3 linked regions of the Homo sapiens genome follow. The protein of the gene in region 1 purifies or fractionates together with the protein of each later gene. This does not show direct contact. Each region holds a gene or a part of one and is shown in the gene's direction. Other genes may lie near its edges. The genes, in order: ZNF641, CHAMP1 and AHCYL2.

The links.
Region 2: the proteins of ZNF641 (region 1) and CHAMP1 purify together in Homo sapiens (affinity purification with mass spectrometry; one large-scale study listed by BioGRID and IntAct). This does not show direct contact.
Region 3: the proteins of ZNF641 (region 1) and AHCYL2 purify together in Homo sapiens (affinity purification with mass spectrometry; one large-scale study listed by BioGRID and IntAct). This does not show direct contact.

The regions. Positions count from the first base shown.
Region 1 is NC_000012.12:48,344,285-48,347,939, reverse strand, and holds part of ZNF641 (zinc finger protein 641), read left to right. Parts: coding exon 1-33; intron 34-596; coding exon 597-688; coding exon of another isoform or gene 689-791; intron 792-2,465; coding exon 2,466-2,595; intron 2,596-3,227; coding exon 3,228-3,341; intron 3,342-3,655. UniProt on the Homo sapiens protein: Transcriptional activator. Activates transcriptional activities of SRE and AP-1.
Region 2 is NC_000013.11:114,320,914-114,324,568, forward strand, and holds part of CHAMP1 (chromosome alignment-maintaining phosphoprotein 1), read left to right. Parts: intron 1-196; 5' UTR 197-319; intron 320-1,149; exon of another isoform or gene 1,150-2,874; 5' UTR 2,875-2,929; coding exon 2,930-3,655. UniProt on the Homo sapiens protein: Required for proper alignment of chromosomes at metaphase and their accurate segregation during mitosis. Involved in the maintenance of spindle microtubules attachment to the kinetochore during sister chromatid biorientation.
Region 3 is NC_000007.14:129,388,974-129,392,628, forward strand, and holds part of AHCYL2 (adenosylhomocysteinase 3), read left to right. Parts: intron 1-82; coding exon 83-226; intron 227-660; coding exon 661-761; intron 762-3,655. UniProt on the Homo sapiens protein: May regulate the electrogenic sodium/bicarbonate cotransporter SLC4A4 activity and Mg(2+)-sensitivity. On the contrary of its homolog AHCYL1, does not regulate ITPR1 sensitivity to inositol 1,4,5-trisphosphate.

The DNA.
Region 1 (3,655 bases):
TTGAAGAGGAGCCACAGTCCCTTCAGGAGAAGGGTGAGAACTCACAGAGTGTGTGGGAAGCACAGTGCATAGTCTCCTAATATTTATTCCAAAAGTAGGGTTAAAAATCTCCAAATTGCCATGGACTAAATAGCATAACCTGTACCAGGACCAGCCCATTCTTTCTCAGCCCTGGTCACAGGTACAGAATAGGCTCCTGAATTCAGCAAACCATGCAACTGGGCTTCTCTTGTTTCTTCATAATTACTCCCTCCACATGCAAATGCATAATTAGTGATACTGAATGAGGGAGATGAAGGAAGTGACAGCAACCTGATTACTGTTGGATAACCCACTCAGTAAGATGTAATTTACTAGATGAAAATTACATTCAAGTACTGTAAATTCAAACTATAGCTAGTCTAACTAAAAGCCATCTGATACCCTTTCAGAACATTTTGAGTGATGGCCTTCTCATCTACATTTATGCATTTGAGTTTTACCAATGGGCATAGATACAGAAGTTGTGACCCTTAAGCCTCTCTAAAATGGGGCCCAGGCCCCATTGAGAAAGGGTAGATCGTTATTCTCTAATGTTTCTTCTCTCTCCTTATCAGCTCAGTCTGCTCCCTGGGTTCCTGCAATTCCCCAGGAGGGGAACACTGGAGACTGGGAGATGGCAGCTGCACTTCTTGCGGCTGGATCACAGGTGAGCTCTGCTTCCCTTGGCGTCTCCTGTGGTCCCATCACTGCTGCCTTTGTATTGCTTTCGCATCAGCCCATTGATGAGTTGGCTCACATGATCATCAATGGTATGTTCATCTTATAACTGAATAGATTCTATCCCTTTCCAAGGGGTCATAAGACCCTTGGAAAATTAAATGGACCTACAAGAAAGGGAATTCCTTGAGGTTAGGGTTTTTTTGAGTTTTGTTTTGTTTTTTGTTTTTGAGACAGAATCTCACTGTGTTGCCCTGGTTGGAGTGCAGTGGTATGATCTTGGCTCCCTGCAACCTCCACCTTCTGGGTTCAAGCGATTCTTGTGCTTCAGCCTCCCAAGTAGCTGGGACTACTGGCACACGCCACCACACCTAGCTAATTTTTGTGTTTTTAGTAGAGACAAGGTTTTGCCACGTTGGCCAGGCTGGTCTTGAACTGCTGACGTCAGGTGATCTGCCCACCTCAGCCTCCCAAAGTGCTGGGGTCACAGGTATGAGCCACCGTGCCTGGCCAAGGTTAGGGTTTTTAATGGATGGCTGTGTTTGTTATCCACAGGAGGATTTTAAGAATAATTAATTACCTTCCTTTAAGAAATAAATCTGGAAAGATTAGGAAAAGAGGACCTGAAGAAAGCTTAGAAGAACCTAAAGTGGAAGGATTGGGTAGATGAGGGAGCATTTATGGAAAAGAAGAGGAAGAAGGTTATAAAGAGGGGCAGAGCTAGAAAGGAAATTAGGTTTAGATTCAGAAGGCAATAGGAGAGCTGTGGAAAGCTAATACTAATAGTGTTAGTACTAATAGAGTACACCCCCAGAGTGTTTATCATGTATGCCATTTTCTGGGTGCTTTATGTATATTAACTCATTTAATTCTGAGAACAACTCAGTTATCCAATTTTACAGATGAGGAAATGGGGCAGGGAGAGATTAAGGCACTTGTGTAGGTCATGCTGCAAGAAAGTGGCAAAGCTGAGTCACTTGGCTCCAGATTCTGAGCTCCTAACCACCATACTGTGCTGCCTAAAAATATAAAGATATGGCCAGGCACGGTGGCTCATGCCTGTAATCCCAGCACTTTGGGAGGCCGAGGTGGGCAAATCACAAGGTCAGGAGTTCGAGACCAGCCTGGCCAACATGGTGAAACCCCGTCTCTACTAACACCACAAAAAAAATAGCTGGGTGTAGTGGTGGGTGCCTGTAATTCCAGCTACTTGGGAGGCTGAGACAGGAGAATCGCTTGAACCTGGGAGGTGGAGGTTGCGGTGAGCCAAGATTGTGCTACTGCACTCCAGCCTGGGCGACAGTGAGACTCCGTCTCAAAAAAAAAAAAATGCTGTGGCAAGGGAGGCAAGAAAGAATGTTTTATCTGTAGCATTTTGTGCTGATAGAAAAGGCAGGGTCCAGTGGAAGAAGGAGGAAATGGTACATAATTTCTTCATAAAAAGAGTAAGGCCAGGGAGAAGTGACTGAGTAGACACCTGTAGCTAAACAGAGGTGGTGATGAGTTTATGGTGCCTCCAGCTTCTCATGGCCCCACTTGGGAAATTCCTCCAGTAACATTACACTCACTCACTCCTTGACCATCTACCTTTACTCCTCTCCTCATTTCCCTGTTACCAAAACTATGTGCCCTACCCAGGGACTTCTGGGCAGCTCTTTTCTCAGATCATTTCTCACCCTCTCTCCTCTACTAACTTAGCCTTTCATACTGAATCACATTTTCCTTAAAAAACAGCTGCTGACAGAAGATGCTACATTTTGTTTCAGGGCCTGGTAACCATCAAGGATGTGTCACTGTGCTTCTCTCAGGAGGAGTGGCGGAGCCTGGACCCCTCTCAGACAGACTTTTATGGAGAATATGTCATGCAGGAAAACTGTGGGATAGTAGTCTCTCTGAGTAAGCATGACCTTCTCCAGCCACTAGAAGATTGGACTCTGGGAGGACGGAGCCATCTGCTTCAGGGCTATTGGATAGTGTCTGTCTAGGACTCTTTATGTGGCAGGGAATCTGTCTATGCTTCCGCTGGAGAAAGAACACTAGGGCCAATCCCAAGAGAATGAGAGTAAATATCATTAAAAAAAAAAAAGTAAAAAAGCAAATGATGCTTAATTGTGGAGTAGAACTTGAGGTTCTTCTTGGTTGGGAATTAGGAGGTTCTCATAAAGCAGAGAGAACTGGAACTGGGTCCTTGTAAACTTGGGAACCATGTAGAGGAAGATAGGGATGCAGGGAGTAGGACTGTCGTAGTAGGACTAAAGTGAAGTTACGCCCAGAAAGGCCAGCTGGGCTGGAAGTATCTGAGTGGAAGAAAACAGGTTCATTGGGAAGGAGAGTGATTTTCTAGGCAGAGAAGAGGGACTTAACAGAAATGGGTGGGGGAAGAGGTTGGGGTGGGGATATGTTTCTTTCTTGACCTTCTTTTGTCTAGAGTTCCAAACAATAGGAAACAGTTTTTTGTATTTTTTTTTCAGAAATATAGAATTGCTGTTGAACTAATTGACAGCTCTATTTTCCTTTCCCATGAGCAGGATTTCCAATTCCCAAACTGGACATGCTTTCTCAACTAGAAGGAGGAGAAGAACAATGGGTCCCTGACCCCCAGGACTTAGAGGAGAGGGACATTCTGAGGGTCACATATACAGGTAAGAACCTAGAATAGGCTTTCAGCCACTTCCTTCACAGTTCGGGACATCATCATTCCATGTTCGTTTAATCCCTCCTCTGCCTCAGAGAGTTCCAGAGACAAAAGGTTTAGAGATTTTTTTCTTCAAAAGCAAGGGAGTGTAATAGAATGATGTAGCAGGCACTTTGTGGATTTGAATTCTGGGCTGTAGTTGTGGGACCTTGGAAAAGTAATAAAACTCCCTTTGGTTTCTTCATCTGTAAATTATTGTGAAAATTAAATATATGAATATATTAGAATATTAGAATAGAACAGTGCCAAGCACATAATAAG
Region 2 (3,655 bases), on another chromosome or scaffold:
CCACTGCACTCCAGCCTGGGCGACAGAGCAAGACTCTGTCTCAAAAAAAAAAAAAGTAAGCAGGCTTAGTGGACTGGACTCCTCTCACTGTTAGGGCAGGATGGTGAGAGAAATACACAGAATTCCATTACAGGGGGCACACACGATCACAGATATAGTTTTGATTACTTTTCTTTTTTTTTTTTTTTTTTTCCAGGTTCAACTTCTCATCTTTGTTCTTCTTCATATACTATAGGCTGTTTGCTGTGGTTTAGTCAAAAAGCCATGTAGAATGCCTGCCTTTTGAAGACCACTTTTAAGGTGTCTAGTAAGACAGCAGGTAAGTCTAGTAGGGAAAGCATGCTTAGGAGAATATTTTATGAGGAGAAAATTAAAAAAAAATACCTGGAGTTCTTGAGGAAAATCTCTAAAAGTGTACACGCCCTTATGGATATAATGTGTGTTGTGTGCTAGATATACATAATTTGGGATATGAGAAGTGAATTCTGTAGCATTCTTTGTAGATTTAAGTATGAGATTGGCCTGAAGAGCTGGTGGTAGGCAGCGGGAAGAGGAGGGATGGCTGGGAGGAATGGGGAATGGTAGGTGAGTCAGACTCAAACCCAGCACACCTGAGCTCTTAGTCTCTGTTGTAATTACAATATGTAATATAGTGCTCTTTAATATTAGCTTGGCTGTTCATTATTGCCAGTTGGGCTGTTCATTATTGCCTCATGGGATTATTGAGACATATCCTACGTTTTCCCCTAAAGTCTTCTAGTTTTATTTAACAATGGGCTCTGAGACGGATGGTTAACCCATTATTTTTCCATGCATTCAATTACGTTTGTAAGTTAAAGATCATTTTCAGAGATTTTTCATCAGTACGGAATTATTTATTTTTCTTTTGTTACAGTCCTGGCCCCAAAACAGTTTTCTAAAATACAGGATAACTGCTGGGCAACTCAGAAAGAGTAAATAGTTTCCGAAGAAAAGTATTTGTTTCCTCAAGTATCTGTCACCTTTTTAGCTTTAGATCAAAAAATAAAAAAGGCAAATGATATACCTTGGATAAAAGTGTTAGGAAGCAGTATTGCCAGTGAGAACATCTTTAAAAACAAATTATCAAAGTTAGAAATGTTAATTTTTTTTTTTTTTTTTTTTTTTGAGATGGAGTCTTGCTCTGTCACCAGGCTGGAATGCAGCGGCATGATCTCAGCTCTCTGCAACCTCCGACTTCTGGTCCAAGCGATTGGCCTGCCTCAGCCTCCCAAGTAGCTGGGACTACAGGCACACGCCACCACGCCTGGCTAATTTTTGTATTTTTAGTAGAGATGGGGTTTCACCATGTTGGCCATGATGGTCTTGATCTCCCGACCTCGTGATCTGCCTGCCCGGCCTCCCAAAGTGCTGAGATTACAGGCATGAGCCACTGCGCCCAGCCTATACATTTTTTTAAAATAATGGTTTTGTAATTAATAAAGGGAGAGCCTGCATTTCTAATCTGTACTGTTCTTTGAGGAGGAGTAAATATCATTACCGTCAATAAGGGAAGGTGTTCAGTCTTTCTCATTAAAGAGAAGCACATTAACACAATAGTGAAATACTAGCTTTCACCTAGGTTGTAGCAAGGATTAGGAATTTATAGGAAATTGTCTCTCATATATACACGTTGTTATGCAGTAATAGAAGTTTTTGAGAGTTTGGTAAAATGTATCAATTTTACACACAAATGGCCAAGTAATCCATTGCTAGGAATTTTCCCTGCAGAAATACCCTCACATGCACAGATAAGTACAGGGAAAGTCAGTGCTTATTCCATATGTAAAAATGTCTTAGAGATAAATTCTAAATGAGAGTAAGTTGCCAGATAATATGTTTAATATCCCATTTGTGTAAAGCATGTGTGTTGATCAATATATGCTTAGGACATTTCTTCCAGGACACATGAGTACACTGGCTACCCCTAGGGACTGACACTCTGTATCTCGTACTGTGTGAATGTGTTTTTAACTGTGAGCTTCTATTCCCTTTACTACTTAAGAAGACTGGTTTACAATTTTTTTAAATTCATGTTTTCCGGCAACTGTGTTCCAGCTGCTGGGGTGTCCTCTGATTTGCCCTTTGGTTGGTATGCGCCTTCACATCATTCAGGATCTCTGCTGGAATGTCCCATGCATAGAGGTCTTTTCCAACGGCCTCTACATCACTCTCCACCTTATCTTTCCAACTCATGAACGCCATATTGCAAAGCACTGCTTTAAGCCTAAGTGCCTAGAACATTGTAGGACACAAAGTTATTTATTTATTAAATGAATTAATAGAATACTATATTGGGATAGATTAAACATTACAAAATATGTTGACATGAAATCAAGCCAGCATCATGTTTTAAAGTCATCTTTTTATAGCTAGATTTAATTTATTAAGTGCTTTCTGCAAAAGTTTTAGTCTCTTGTTCATCCTTAAATAGCCAAGATTTAATTTTGATATTCACTCATCTTTGTGTGCTGAGGACTTTTGTACTCGGAGTTTGAGAGTCAAAGTATAAAGCACATGCAATAGCTAATTCTAGAGTCAGGCTCACATCACTGATAGTCCTATAGCCTGGACCAGAGAAAGTCAGGTAACTTCTCTGAACCTGTTTCTTCATCTGTAAGTGAAAATAATAGTTGAGTCATATCATTAGGATTAAATGAGATGATGTATGTGAAACTCCTAGCAGAGTGCCTGGGACTGTTCTATATCTCCTTTTTCTTCAAATTCTCCCTAGAGATACTATCAAATAAAGCACGCACTGTTCTAGACTTAAAATTATGCAGTTATAGAATGGACTGACAGCATTTTATTCAGAATTACAGTTCATGAAAATAATTTATTCCTACTTTATTGCAGCAGTATTGAAAGTTTTTAAAGAATATAACCGTGTGTGTTGGTAACAGACAGAAGAATGGAAGCATTCCAGGAACTTCGTAAACCATCAGCACGTTTGGAGTGTGACCATTGCAGTTTCAGAGGCACAGACTATGAAAATGTACAAATCCATATGGGTACCATCCATCCAGAATTTTGTGATGAAATGGATGCTGGTGGGCTAGGCAAAATGATATTTTACCAGAAAAGTGCAAAGTTATTTCACTGCCATAAATGCTTCTTCACCAGCAAGATGTACTCTAATGTATACTATCACATCACATCCAAACATGCATCCCCAGACAAATGGAATGATAAACCAAAAAATCAGTTGAACAAAGAAACAGATCCTGTGAAAAGCCCTCCTCTTCCTGAACACCAGAAAATACCCTGCAATTCAGCAGAACCAAAATCCATACCTGCCCTTTCAATGGAAACACAGAAACTTGGTTCAGTTTTGTCTCCAGAATCGCCAAAACCTACTCCTCTTACTCCCCTGGAGCCTCAGAAACCTGGCTCTGTTGTTTCTCCTGAGCTACAGACACCTCTTCCTTCTCCTGAGCCTTCAAAACCTGCCTCTGTTTCTTCTCCTGAACCTCCAAAATCAGTCCCTGTTTGTGAGTCTCAGAAACTTGCCCCTGTTCCTTCTCCAGAACCACAGAAACCTGCCCCTGTATCTCCTGAGTCAGTAAAGGCTACTCTTAGTAATCCCAAACCCCAGAAGCAGTCTCATTTCCCGGAAACATTGGGGCCACCTTCAGCC
Region 3 (3,655 bases), on another chromosome or scaffold:
GAAGCTTCAGTTTGCTCCATGGTTTGGAATTTTAGAGGAAGCATTTTTTTTTTTCCGAGTGTTTTTTATTCTGTCATTCCAGCGGCTTCATATACAGATAGCTCTGATGATGAGACATCGCCCAGGGACAAGCAGCAAAAGAACTCTAAGGGAAGCAGTGACTTCTGTGTTAAGAACATCAAACAGGCAGAGTTTGGACGAAGAGAAATTGAAATTGCTGAACAAGGTAAAGAAAACAAGCACCTTTTCCTTCTTAACCTACCTGTGTCTTTTTGTCCATATTAATCCCTTTTTATGTCTGGGGTCTGGTAGCTTGTGAAATTTCTATGTGATAAGAATACTTATAACAAAAGAAATGTGAGTTCAAGAAACACTGGGGAAATCTGGCAAGTCTAGAAGGAACCCTGTATTAAAAAAAAAAAAAAAAAAGGGAGAGAGACTGGATAAGGACTGGAATATAGAGAATCAGAACCCTGGAGCATTTGCCTCCAAAAGCCCTTTATAAAGGAAAATACAGGTTTAATGTCTTGATCCCTGGAGAAACCTAATCTAACCTGATCAGGGGAAGGATCTTAACTTAAGAAAACAAGTTTTTCTGTTTGTTCTTTTATCTCTTATTCCTTCTTCTTTAATATTGCTGTATTTATTGGGCCTTTTCAGAAATGCCTGCATTGATGGCTTTGAGGAAGAGAGCTCAAGGAGAAAAGCCTTTGGCTGGAGCCAAAATCGTGGGTTGCACACACATCACTGCTCAGACTGCTGTGAGTTCTTTTCTTTTCTCCTTTTAATTACAATAGTTAATAATAGCCACGAGCTACTGAAAGCTTACAACATGCCAAGCACCGAGTTAAGAGCTTAACAAGTATTAGCTTATTAATCCTTATAATGGCCATATAAAGCAGGTATTCTTGTTTCCATTTTATAAACGAAGAAGCTGAGGCTCAGAGGGCTTAAGATATTTGTTTAAGGTTATACAGCTAGAAATCACAGAGTCAAGATTTTAACTTCAATATACAGTAGTCCCCCTGCCTTGTCTGTGGGGGATAAGTTTCAAGACCCCTAGTGGACACCTGAAACTTCAGACAGTACTGAACCCTATATATACTATGTTTTTTCCTATACATATATACCTATAATCAAGTTTAATTTATGCAATTGGCCCTGCATGTCCACCAGTTCTGCTTCCTGAGGATTTGACCAACTGCAGATCAAAAATATTCAGAAAATAAAATAATACAACAATACAAAATAACAAGAAATATAACAACTATTTACATAGCATTTACACTGTATTGGGTACTATAAATAACCTAGAGATGCTTTAAAATATACAGAAGGATGTGCACAGATTATATGCAAACACTGCATCATTTTATATAAGGGACATGAGCATCCTCAGATTTTGGTATCCATGGGAGTGCTGGAATAAATCCCCTGAGGATACTGAGAGACAGCTATAAATTCAGCACAGTAAGAAATGAACAACAGTAACTCAAAATAAAAGAGAGCAATTACAACAACAGACTGTAATAAAAGTTATGTCACATAAAGGAATTTATCACAGTACATAGCAGAAAGTCCAAAGGGAAGGCAGACTTCAGATGCAGGATCTCAGGGCTCCAGCTTCACCTCTCTGATTCTCTTGGAGCTGCCTCCTCAGTATGCTTACTTCACCCTAAAGCTGATAGCAAGATGCTTACAACTATTCTAGTCATCACAAACTGACATGAAAAGGAAGAGGGACCATTTCTTCCTCACTCAAGAGAAGTCCCTCCAGGATACTCCATCGTGTCTCATTGGGCAGAACTGGATCATGTATCTGTGCTCCACCAGTCCTACCGAGGGGCGTGGAATTACCATGATTTGCTTACACCAGTGATTCCTACCTTACTCTCATCAGTTTTAATGTCCCCTTTTTATTAAAAAACTTTTTTTTTGCAGTGTCCCTGAACTATCCTGAAATGAAATTCAGATATAACATGTCCAGGTACATATAATCTTTAAAAATAAATCAATATAAAATCTTAACTGAAATATGAAGGAGGAATAAAAAAAGTACAATACTTAAAATAATGTGTATTTCAATATGTAAATACTTGAGGACAACTATAGTAGAACAATCAGATATTTGTACTATTTCACAGTATTATTTGAAATAGTATTATTTGAAGACAGAAATAAATGTGTTATTGATTCCAGAGCATCAGAGCAGCATTGCCATGATTTTCTGAAATAGTAAACAACTTTTTGTAATCTTCTAAACAATAAGAACAACAAAAAGTATGAGTTTTCTCTTCATTTACATAGCTGTTACATTCCTGGAAAAACTATTGTTTTGTATTAAAACTACAAAACTACTTTTTGCTAATTTGTAAAGTGGAATTAGGTTCTAAACTCAGATAATTGTAGATAGGTTTTTCACCCATGGGAACTTTTATTGGGACATTTGAAAATTGTACCAGCTGCAACACAGTTTTTTGTTGAGACACTTTCAAAATGTCCAGATTCCTGGTCCTGCCCACTAAATGCCAATAGCACTCCCCTTCCAATTATTGTGGCAACCAAAAATGCCCCCACAATTTTCTAGATCTCCTCTTTTATCACCAGAGATGCAATATATATGGAGTTGCTAACCATAATGAGACCACTATCGGGAAATTGTTATATTGAGCAGTGGTCTGGAATCTTTTATGGGGATTCATAAGATCTGGGTCATCTGTGTGGCTAGATCAGCTTTCCAAAGATTGTCTCTCCCAAAGCACAACACTTATGTGGTCACATTCCTGATTAAGAACATTAGAGATTCCTCAAGGTACAGACAGCTTCTATTAGCATCTTCACTATGAAACTTTTCTGGGTTATGTGTTCTCTGAGGACAAGAGTACCCTGACTGCTCAAAATTAATATAATAAATTGAAAAGCTATCTGTTTTGGAGCTACAAACTAATGAATCAAGACAGAAACACTCTTGAATCTTTTTTGGCCTGCTCAGTCAGCGACATGAGACTTCAGTGTGGTAGCTTAAAATAGTAAGTGCTTCTCTACTGTCTCATGTTGCTGAATTACATCTAGTTTGTTTTTTACCCTTAGGCTCAGTGAGCATTACCACCTTTCATGGTTCCCTTTCTATTTTTTTCCTGAATGGATTGATCACAATTAGCTTACCAATTTTAATATTAATTTATTGTTTCCACCCCACATTTTTTTCCTTTAAAAAAATAACGACAAAGAAATTATGCTTTGTTTGCCAACCTAATACTCTTTCACTCTTGTCTTAGTTCATTTGGGCTGCTATAACAAAATACCTTAGACTGGGTAATTAATAAACAATAGATATTTATTGTTCACAGTTCTGGAGGCTAGGAAGTCCAAGATCAAGGCGCCAGCAGATTCAGTATCTGGTGAGGGCCTGTTCCTTATAGATGGCGCTTTCTATGTGCCCTCACATGGCCAAAGGGGCAAGCAAGCTTCCTCAGGCTTGTTTTATAAGTACACTAATCCCATTTGTGAGGGCAGAAATCTCATGTCTAATCACCTTCCAATCACTTCCATAATCACCTTTTAATACCATCGCCTAGGGGGTTAGTTTTTAACATATGACTCTGGGGGAGGAGAACATACATTCAGACCATAGCAATCCCCAAATACTTTAGTG